Homo sapiens: one gene and its partner. The protein of the gene in region 1 binds, or shares a complex with, the protein of each later gene. Each region holds a gene or a part of one and is shown in the gene's direction. Other genes may lie near its edges. The genes, in order: FETUB and MEP1A.

What was found.
Region 2: the proteins of FETUB (region 1) and MEP1A are in contact, whole or in part, in a cryo-EM structure (PDB 7UAI), measured with the Homo sapiens proteins. Residues at the interface, in NP_001362516.1 of Homo sapiens: Phe109, Phe110, Lys144, Lys145, Tyr148, Met149, Thr150, Cys151, Pro152, Asp153, Cys154, Pro155, Ser156, Ser157, Ile158, Ser196, Ser197, Gln198, Trp199, Val200, Val201, Gly202, Tyr205, Phe206, Thr242, His245, Trp246, Phe249, Val250, Ser251; in NP_005579.2 of Homo sapiens: Asp126, Gly127, Cys128 (codon at 2,418), Trp129 (codon at 2,421), Ser130 (codon at 2,424), Glu131 (codon at 2,427), Val132 (codon at 2,430), Gln145 (codon at 2,469), Gly146 (codon at 2,472), Cys147 (codon at 2,475), Tyr149 (codon at 2,481), Ile152 (codon at 2,490), His155 (codon at 2,499), Glu156 (codon at 2,502), His159 (codon at 2,511), Tyr164 (codon at 2,526), His165 (codon at 2,529), Gln167 (codon at 2,535), Ser168 (codon at 2,538), Leu184 (codon at 2,586), Gly186, Tyr187, His189, Asn190, Asp192, Tyr194, Tyr214, Gln215, Phe217, Ser218.

Annotation. Positions count from the first base shown.
Region 1 is NC_000003.12:186,650,330-186,653,893, forward strand, and holds the end of FETUB (fetuin-B isoform 1 precursor), read left to right. Parts: intron 1-888; coding exon 889-972; intron 973-1,933; coding exon 1,934-2,302; 3' UTR 2,303-2,812; downstream 2,813-3,564. UniProt on the Homo sapiens protein: Protease inhibitor required for egg fertilization.
Region 2 is NC_000006.12:46,817,113-46,821,033, forward strand, and holds part of MEP1A (meprin A subunit alpha precursor), read left to right. Parts: intron 1-2,416; coding exon 2,417-2,592; intron 2,593-3,921.

The DNA of each region.
Region 1 (3,564 bases):
CTTGAAAATGTACATACAGTATGACTCTAAAATTCCTCTTCTAGGAATTTATTCTAAGGAAGTAACTAGGAATACATGAAAAGATATAGCTTCAATGTTTAAACAACAGAAAAATTAGATTCAATCTAGCTGTCCAACAAAAGAGAGCTTGTTAAACATCACAGAGGAATACTATGTAGCCATTATTTTAAAAACCCTAGAAGATCATTCAATGCCATAAGAGGGTTTTTACAATATATTGTTAAGTGACAAAATAGAGTTATAAAGTAATATATATATAATATGACTCTATTTTGTAGAAGAAAAATGTATATGCATAGAAAAAAAGACTGGAAGGAAGGAAATCAAATCACTGCAGGTAACAAATATATTTCATGCAATTTACAGGTCTTTATTTTCTTTTGTTTATCTATATTCTAACTATTACATTTGTAATAAGGAAACAAAGCTACTTTACTTTTAAGTAAAGAGAAATTTAAGGAGCTGAGAGTGGTTTTGTCTGAGAAGAGAAATGTCAGGTGGAACGCACTTAAAGGGCTGCTATATAAAAGATGAAAACACGTTTTCTAATTGACCCAAGGGTAGAACTAAGGCCAAGAGGTAGAAGTTGTATGGACATAACTTTCCACTCAACACAAAGAATTTTTTTAACAAACAGAGTTTCATTCCTCAAGAAATACTGAGTTTCTCATTATTGGAGGCAATTTAGCCTAATTTGGATGATTTCTTGGTAGGGGTGATCTAGAAAGAATTGACTCAGAGTCTACCTGTTACATAGTAGAAGCATAAAAATGTTGATTGGCTGTGTATCTACACAAGTAGAAAGCTAGTTGATTTCCATCTGTGATCACTGGTAATACTCACATGACATTGTATTTTCTCTTTTAGCCTGTTGGTCTTTGCAAAGGTTCTCTGACTCGAACACACTGGGAAAAGTTTGTCTCTGTGACTTGTGACTTCTTTGAATCACAGGTATTTTTCAATCTAATTGCCTGTCTTTCTGTGAAGAAGAGCAGATTATCGATAGTTACCTGCCACTACCTTACCCCCTCCTTTGATTTTCCCAACCACCTTGCTCACCACTTTGCGCAGGCTAGCCTGAGTCCACATCCACAGGATAGCCAGTCAAAGACCTGTTATGCCTTGTTTCAGTCGCAATATGGTCCTGCAGAATAAGCAAGACAAATTCAGAAACAGGGAACTGCTGGCTTGGATGTGATTCAAGCCTCTGAGACATTAAATTCAGCGTCCCAAAGAAACCTTACCTCAAGCCACAGGGAGAAGTTATTTCCATGAAAATATTCAATCCCTTTCCAGAAGTGTTTATTGCGCACTTATTATAAGGTAGCCTGGTATATTTGAGAGGCAGTTTATATTTGAGGTGTATTTGTGCCTGGTATATTTGAAGCAGTTGAAACAGGACACTTGGGATCCAGTTTTGCTCTGGTACCTGTGAGCTGTGTAACAGGCACACACTTACCTGTTCGAGTTTTGGTTGCCTCATTTATAAAATGGGATTGCGACACTGCATCATTCAGATCCCTGTGAGAAGCAAGTGAAAGGACCTGAATGAAGGGTGCTGTACAAGGCCTGGTGCAGAATAAACAAGCAAGGAAAGGCACCTGCTGCTTCCACTACTGGGAACAGAAAGAGAGCTTGCTGGAGACTTCGAGTGAGTCATTGAACCTCTCTGGGCCATTATTCAGCTCTGAAATTGTGAGACTTACAGTCTCACAGTCAAGCTTCTACAGGTCCTGGTTCCCCCTGGCCCTTATCTGTTTTGTTTTTTAACCCTTTCACCAGGAGGCCCATCCCTCTACCTAGTCTCCCTTTGAAATGTTCCAACAGAAAGGCACAGATCAGCTTAGGCTGGTACTAGGCATGGGAGGACTTTCCCTGTGGAACTCTACATTCAAAAATGTTCTCATTCCAGGCTCCAGCCACTGGAAGTGAAAACTCTGCTGTTAACCAGAAACCTACAAACCTTCCCAAGGTGGAAGAATCCCAGCAGAAAAACACCCCCCCAACAGACTCCCCCTCCAAAGCTGGGCCAAGAGGATCTGTCCAATATCTTCCTGACTTGGATGATAAAAATTCCCAGGAAAAGGGCCCTCAGGAGGCCTTTCCTGTGCATCTGGACCTAACCACGAATCCCCAGGGAGAAACCCTGGATATTTCCTTCCTCTTCCTGGAGCCTATGGAGGAGAAGCTGGTGGTCCTGCCTTTCCCCAAAGAAAAAGCACGCACTGCTGAGTGCCCAGGGCCAGCCCAGAATGCCAGCCCTCTTGTCCTTCCGCCATGAGAATCACACAGAGTCTTCTGTAGGGGTATGGTGCGCCGCATGACATGGGAGGCGATGGGGACGATGGACAGAGACAGAGCGTGCACACGTAGAGTGGCTAGTGAAGGACGCCTTTTTGACTCTTCTTGGTCTCAGCATGTTGACTGGGATTGGAAATAATGAGACTGAGCCCTCGGCTTGGGCTGCACTCTACCCTGTACACTGCCTTGTACCCTGAGCTGCATCACCTCCTAAACTGAGCAGTCTCATACCATGGAGAGATGCCTCTCTTATGTCTTCAGCCACTCACTTATAAAGATACTTATCTTTTCAGCAGTATATATGTGCTGAAATCTCAGCATGAAAGCATTGCATGAGTAAAGATACTTTCCCTAACACCGGGAGGCGTGAGCAACTAATGCCCAGCACAGTTTCAGTCCCTAAATTCCCTTTAATTCCAGGACAGGTATTAGCTGCGTAGGGCCCATACCATTTCCAACCCTCTACCTCTTTTCATCTGTCTGGAAGTCTCCAGGTCTCAACAGTGGGGTAATTCACTTAGAGCTGGAGGCACATAGAAGGGAAGTGCACATGTGGCCTGTGCTAGACACTGTGGGAGCAGCAGACCGTGACAGTTCTCATCACTGTTACAATTTCTCTAGGACAGTTAGAGGAGGGCTCATCACAGCATTCAATTACAGTCTACGTTTTCCTTCTTTCAAACACTGCAGGGCCAATTTCCCCTCATTCAGTGATACCTATGTGCACACGCACACATGCACAGCAGATAAGACTTTGGACATTTTGACAGAGAATTTGCAGATGCAGCTATTGTCCTCTATCTTGGTGGCTGTTAGAAGAGGCACACAGGCCTCAGCATAATTTGCATAAGAGACGTAGACAATGTTCACACTCTGTTCCTCTTATCTGCTTCTCATAAGAAGGAAGTGATTATGTGGGGGTGTCATGTGGGGTCTTACACCGTGTTGGTCAGGGTCTGAAAGAAGCAGAATTGTACTCAGGTGGCTCAACTAAAAAGACTTCAGTTGGCTCAGCGTGCTGGCTCATGCTTGTAATCCCAGCACTTTGGGAGGCTGAGGCGGCCAGATCACCGGAGGTCAGGAGTTTGAGACCAGCCTGGCCAACATGGTGAAACCCTGTCTCTACTAAAAATACAAAAATTAGCCGGGCATGGTGGTACATATCTGTAATCCCAGTCACTCGGGAGGCTGAGGCAGGAGAATCGCTTGAACCTGGGAGGTGGAGGCTGCAGTGAGCTGAGA
Region 2 (3,921 bases), on another chromosome or scaffold:
AGAAGAGGGAATGGATTTCAGAAATCTGTGAAAAAGTGTATTTATCAGAACCTAACCTTATCAAATTGGTTAGTGGGAGGAGGGGTTAGGAAAGGAGAGGAGTCAAAAGTATCTGAGATTTCAGATTTGGATGACTGGCAAGTGGTAACTTCATTTGCTGAGGCTGGGAATATTGCTGAAAGAATAACTTTGGGGATGAGGTAGGAGAGTAAACTCATCTTACTGCATGTGTTTTATTGCTTGAGGTTTTTGCAGGTCATATAAATGGAGATAACCAATAGTAGTTAGATAGTTTATTTTTCTGTAAAGGGGAAACATTTAAAGTATATCTCAGGCCTTGCAAAGACCACACATTTTAGGGCCTCTCTGCTTTTGACTACTGCATTTTGTCCCTTGGCAATCTCTGACCTTCAAGGAAGTGCTAAAACCCTTAATTTTTCATTGAAAACGTCAGAGAAACAATTAACTTTATTAACAAATTTATTTCCATTCTTCAGCTACCACTTTTGCATCATTCTTTTTTCACAAAGAAACTCCTTAAAAATAAAACAAAATCCACATAATTACTTTCCAAAATTCTCACTTTCACAGTGAAGTTCTCCCAACTTCTTTTTTTGTTTTCAAGTGAGTCCCAACTACTTGATTAAGGGGTAGGTCAGCTTTGAGAGACATTCTTTGTAAAAGCACTGAATCTGGGAAACCTAATCACCTATGGCCAGGAGATGTCTCTGTTACAGATAATTTAAGAGAGGGAAAAAGAGAGGAAGATATTTTGGGAAGGGACTGGCCCAAAGTGCCCCTAAGCCCTTCAGGGCACTGGTCTCCTGAAGTTGGAGGCTAACTGGGACTCTTTCAGAAAGACAAGGTCAAAAGTTCTCAGTGAGGTGGAATGTATGGTATTTTTGCAACTTATGTCTTTCTGTTGGGGGAGGAATTTAAAAAGAAAGATGAATAATAAATGCTTTCTCTGAGTTGTGAATATTTTGCAGAGTAAACTCTGATTTGGTAATAAAATGCCACTATCAGAGAGGCAAGTTGATCATGGTTACATTTGCATAACACTGTAAATTTACTAAAAGTCATTGAATTGTATACTTAAAATTAAAGAATTTTATAGTATATAAATTATACCTTAATAAAGTTATTAGAAAATAAATAACTAAGATTCATCTTTGAGTAAAAATCAAATCTGTTAGCCTTTGAAGGTATACTGTGTCAGTAGTCTTGGGGAGAACATTGGCAGGTAAGACACTGTGACTGTCACCATGAAACTTGCAATCCATTGGTTGCATTTATGACTATCAGGAAATCTTTCTTTTCTGCTCAGCATTGGGTAAAATATAGATCTTCATTTGACAATTTAAAGCCAATAGGAGACAATTTGTGGAAAGCTTTGGGTTTGCTAATAGAGGTGAAAAATTGGGTTTATGAGAAGAGAAAAAATAATTGGGGGGAGAATGAAAGAGGAAGACATTCTACCGTAAGGAATTCAGGGAATCTGACAGAGGTTCCCGAGCCCACTGATTTCAGAGGGACGCTACAGGTCCTCCTTGCCTGATACCCTTCAGAAATAAGTTAGGCAGCCTTCTCTGTGCTGTCATAACACTGTAGATCTGCTATTTCCGAAGACATGGATTTTATTAATTTGCTTTTTAATGAGGATCTTTTTATGATCATAAAATATATGCTTGTTCATTATAGGAACTTTGAAAATTTATTAAAGTATAAAAGGGCTAGGTGCGATGGCTCACACCTGTAATCCTAGCATTTTGGGAGGTCAAGGAGGGCAAATCGTTTGAGCCCAGGAGTTTGAGACCAGGCTGGGCAACATGGCAAAACCCTGTCTCTACAAAAAAATAAAAACATTATCTGCCTGTGGTTCCAAGTCCCAGCCTCTCAGGAGGCTGAGGTGGGAAGATCACCTGAGTAGAGGAGGCTGAGGCTGCTGTGAGCTGTGATTGTGGCACTGCACAGCAACCTGAGTGATAAAGTGAGACCCCCAATCTCAAAAAAATTAAATCAACCACAGCTTTCCCTCAGACAACAATTTTTTAGATAAAGGCAACAGTGTTATTCTTTGGAGTGCCCTGTGGGTTTGTGGAGGTGAGAAGGAATGCCAATGTTTATTGCTTTCTACCTTGACGAATTGTTATAATAGGATTGATTTGCTTCTGAGTATGTGCCACTTTTATAATGTATTATATCTTCACTTTTAAAGCCTGCACAGTATTCCCTCTAGGGAATGCTCCTTCTTTAAGCAGTCCCCATCTTTGGACCATTAGCATATGAGAATGCTGTTGGTAATTTCTTTCTAAAATCAAGCCTAATTTCCTCCTAATTTGTGTTTTGGAGTACTGTGAATGACAGCCACTTAAAAATTCTCTAGAAGAAATTTTTCCTCTTCTCCTCTTTAAAGGTGCTGGTCTGAGGTTGGTGACCAACATGTGGGACAGAACATTTCCATTGGCCAAGGATGTGCCTATAAGGCCATCATAGAACACGAGATCCTGCATGCTTTGGGATTTTACCACGAGCAGTCAAGGACGGACCGGGATGATTATGTGAACATCTGGTGGGACCAAATTCTTTCAGGTGTGATTGGGCGGAGATTGCTATCACATTTATCACTGGCTGAGACCAATCCTGAGATGACCAAGCCAAATCTGTGTGGACAGGAGCTTCAGCCTCTCTAGTGGGAAGAAAGACTCTGAAGAGGTTATGATTTGTTGGCCCTTTATGTGGGCTGTGCTGGTCTGACCGGAATTCATCGCAGATAAGGGCCTCAAGGAATGGTGTTAACTCACTGTGGGGGTCAACTGAAAGTTAACCAGAAGCTTTGCTTTATATCAGTGTTTTCATTAAAACTCTATCTAAAACTCTACTTTCCTGTCTTACTGAGGAAAGTGAATCCAGATTTTAAAGTCATTTCTCTGGATGTGAAATCTCCTGTGCCTCTAGAAGGCTGTTTGAGGTTTAGTTGATTATTCCATGACTATAGGGCATACTCAAGAAGTATTTTTTCCAGTTGCTTTACCAAATCAATAAAAAATGTTTAAAAACAAAAACAAAAATAAATGCTTTTATCTGAAATAACACCCCAATTATGTTAATTCTAGCTAGTTATCTGGGTTCTGATTAATCAAAGGTGAATGTTTTTTTCTTCCTTGTTTCTAAGCACCTTGCTTCTTCTGCCTCCACCTCATACAATGCAAAATACAACAGTTTTGTCTTACGTATTATTCCGTTGTATTATTTTAACTATTTCATTGTTCTTTAGGTTGTTTTGTTTTGTTTTGAGACAGAGTTTTGCTCTTGTGGCCCAGGCTGGAGTGCAATGGTGCGATCTCAGCTCACTGCAACCTCTGCCTCCTGAGTTCAAGCGATTCTCCTGCCTCAGGGAGGCAGATGGGATTATAGGTGTGTGTCACCATGCCTGGCTAATTCTGTATTTTTTAAGTAGAGATGGGATTTCATCATGTTGGTTAGGCTGGTCTTGAACTCCTGACCTCAGGTGATCGGCCTGCCTTGGCCTCCCAAAGTGCTGGGATTACAGGCATGAGCCACCACCGTGTCCGGCCCTTACTTTCCTTAATTGTTTGAGACAATGAAGTAGAGTGCTTTTGAGTACACTAAAACATTTATTGAGCAGCTTCCTGATGTGGTAGAAAAAAAAAAAGTCAATGCTGTGTTTCTGAAGATACCTAGTTTTTAAGAAGGAATTAGTGAAGAGAATGCAAAAACATTGTTTTTGGCAGTAAGAGATTAATGAAACTTTAATATATTTAAAATGCCTTAACTGTTTCCGGCATGGCTTTTATAAAACAAATAATAGCCTTGTGTAGGTATCTGTTTTATTTAGATCCCAATTTTATATGCGGATTCATATATTGCAGTGCATCTATAATAATTTTACTTTTGGGG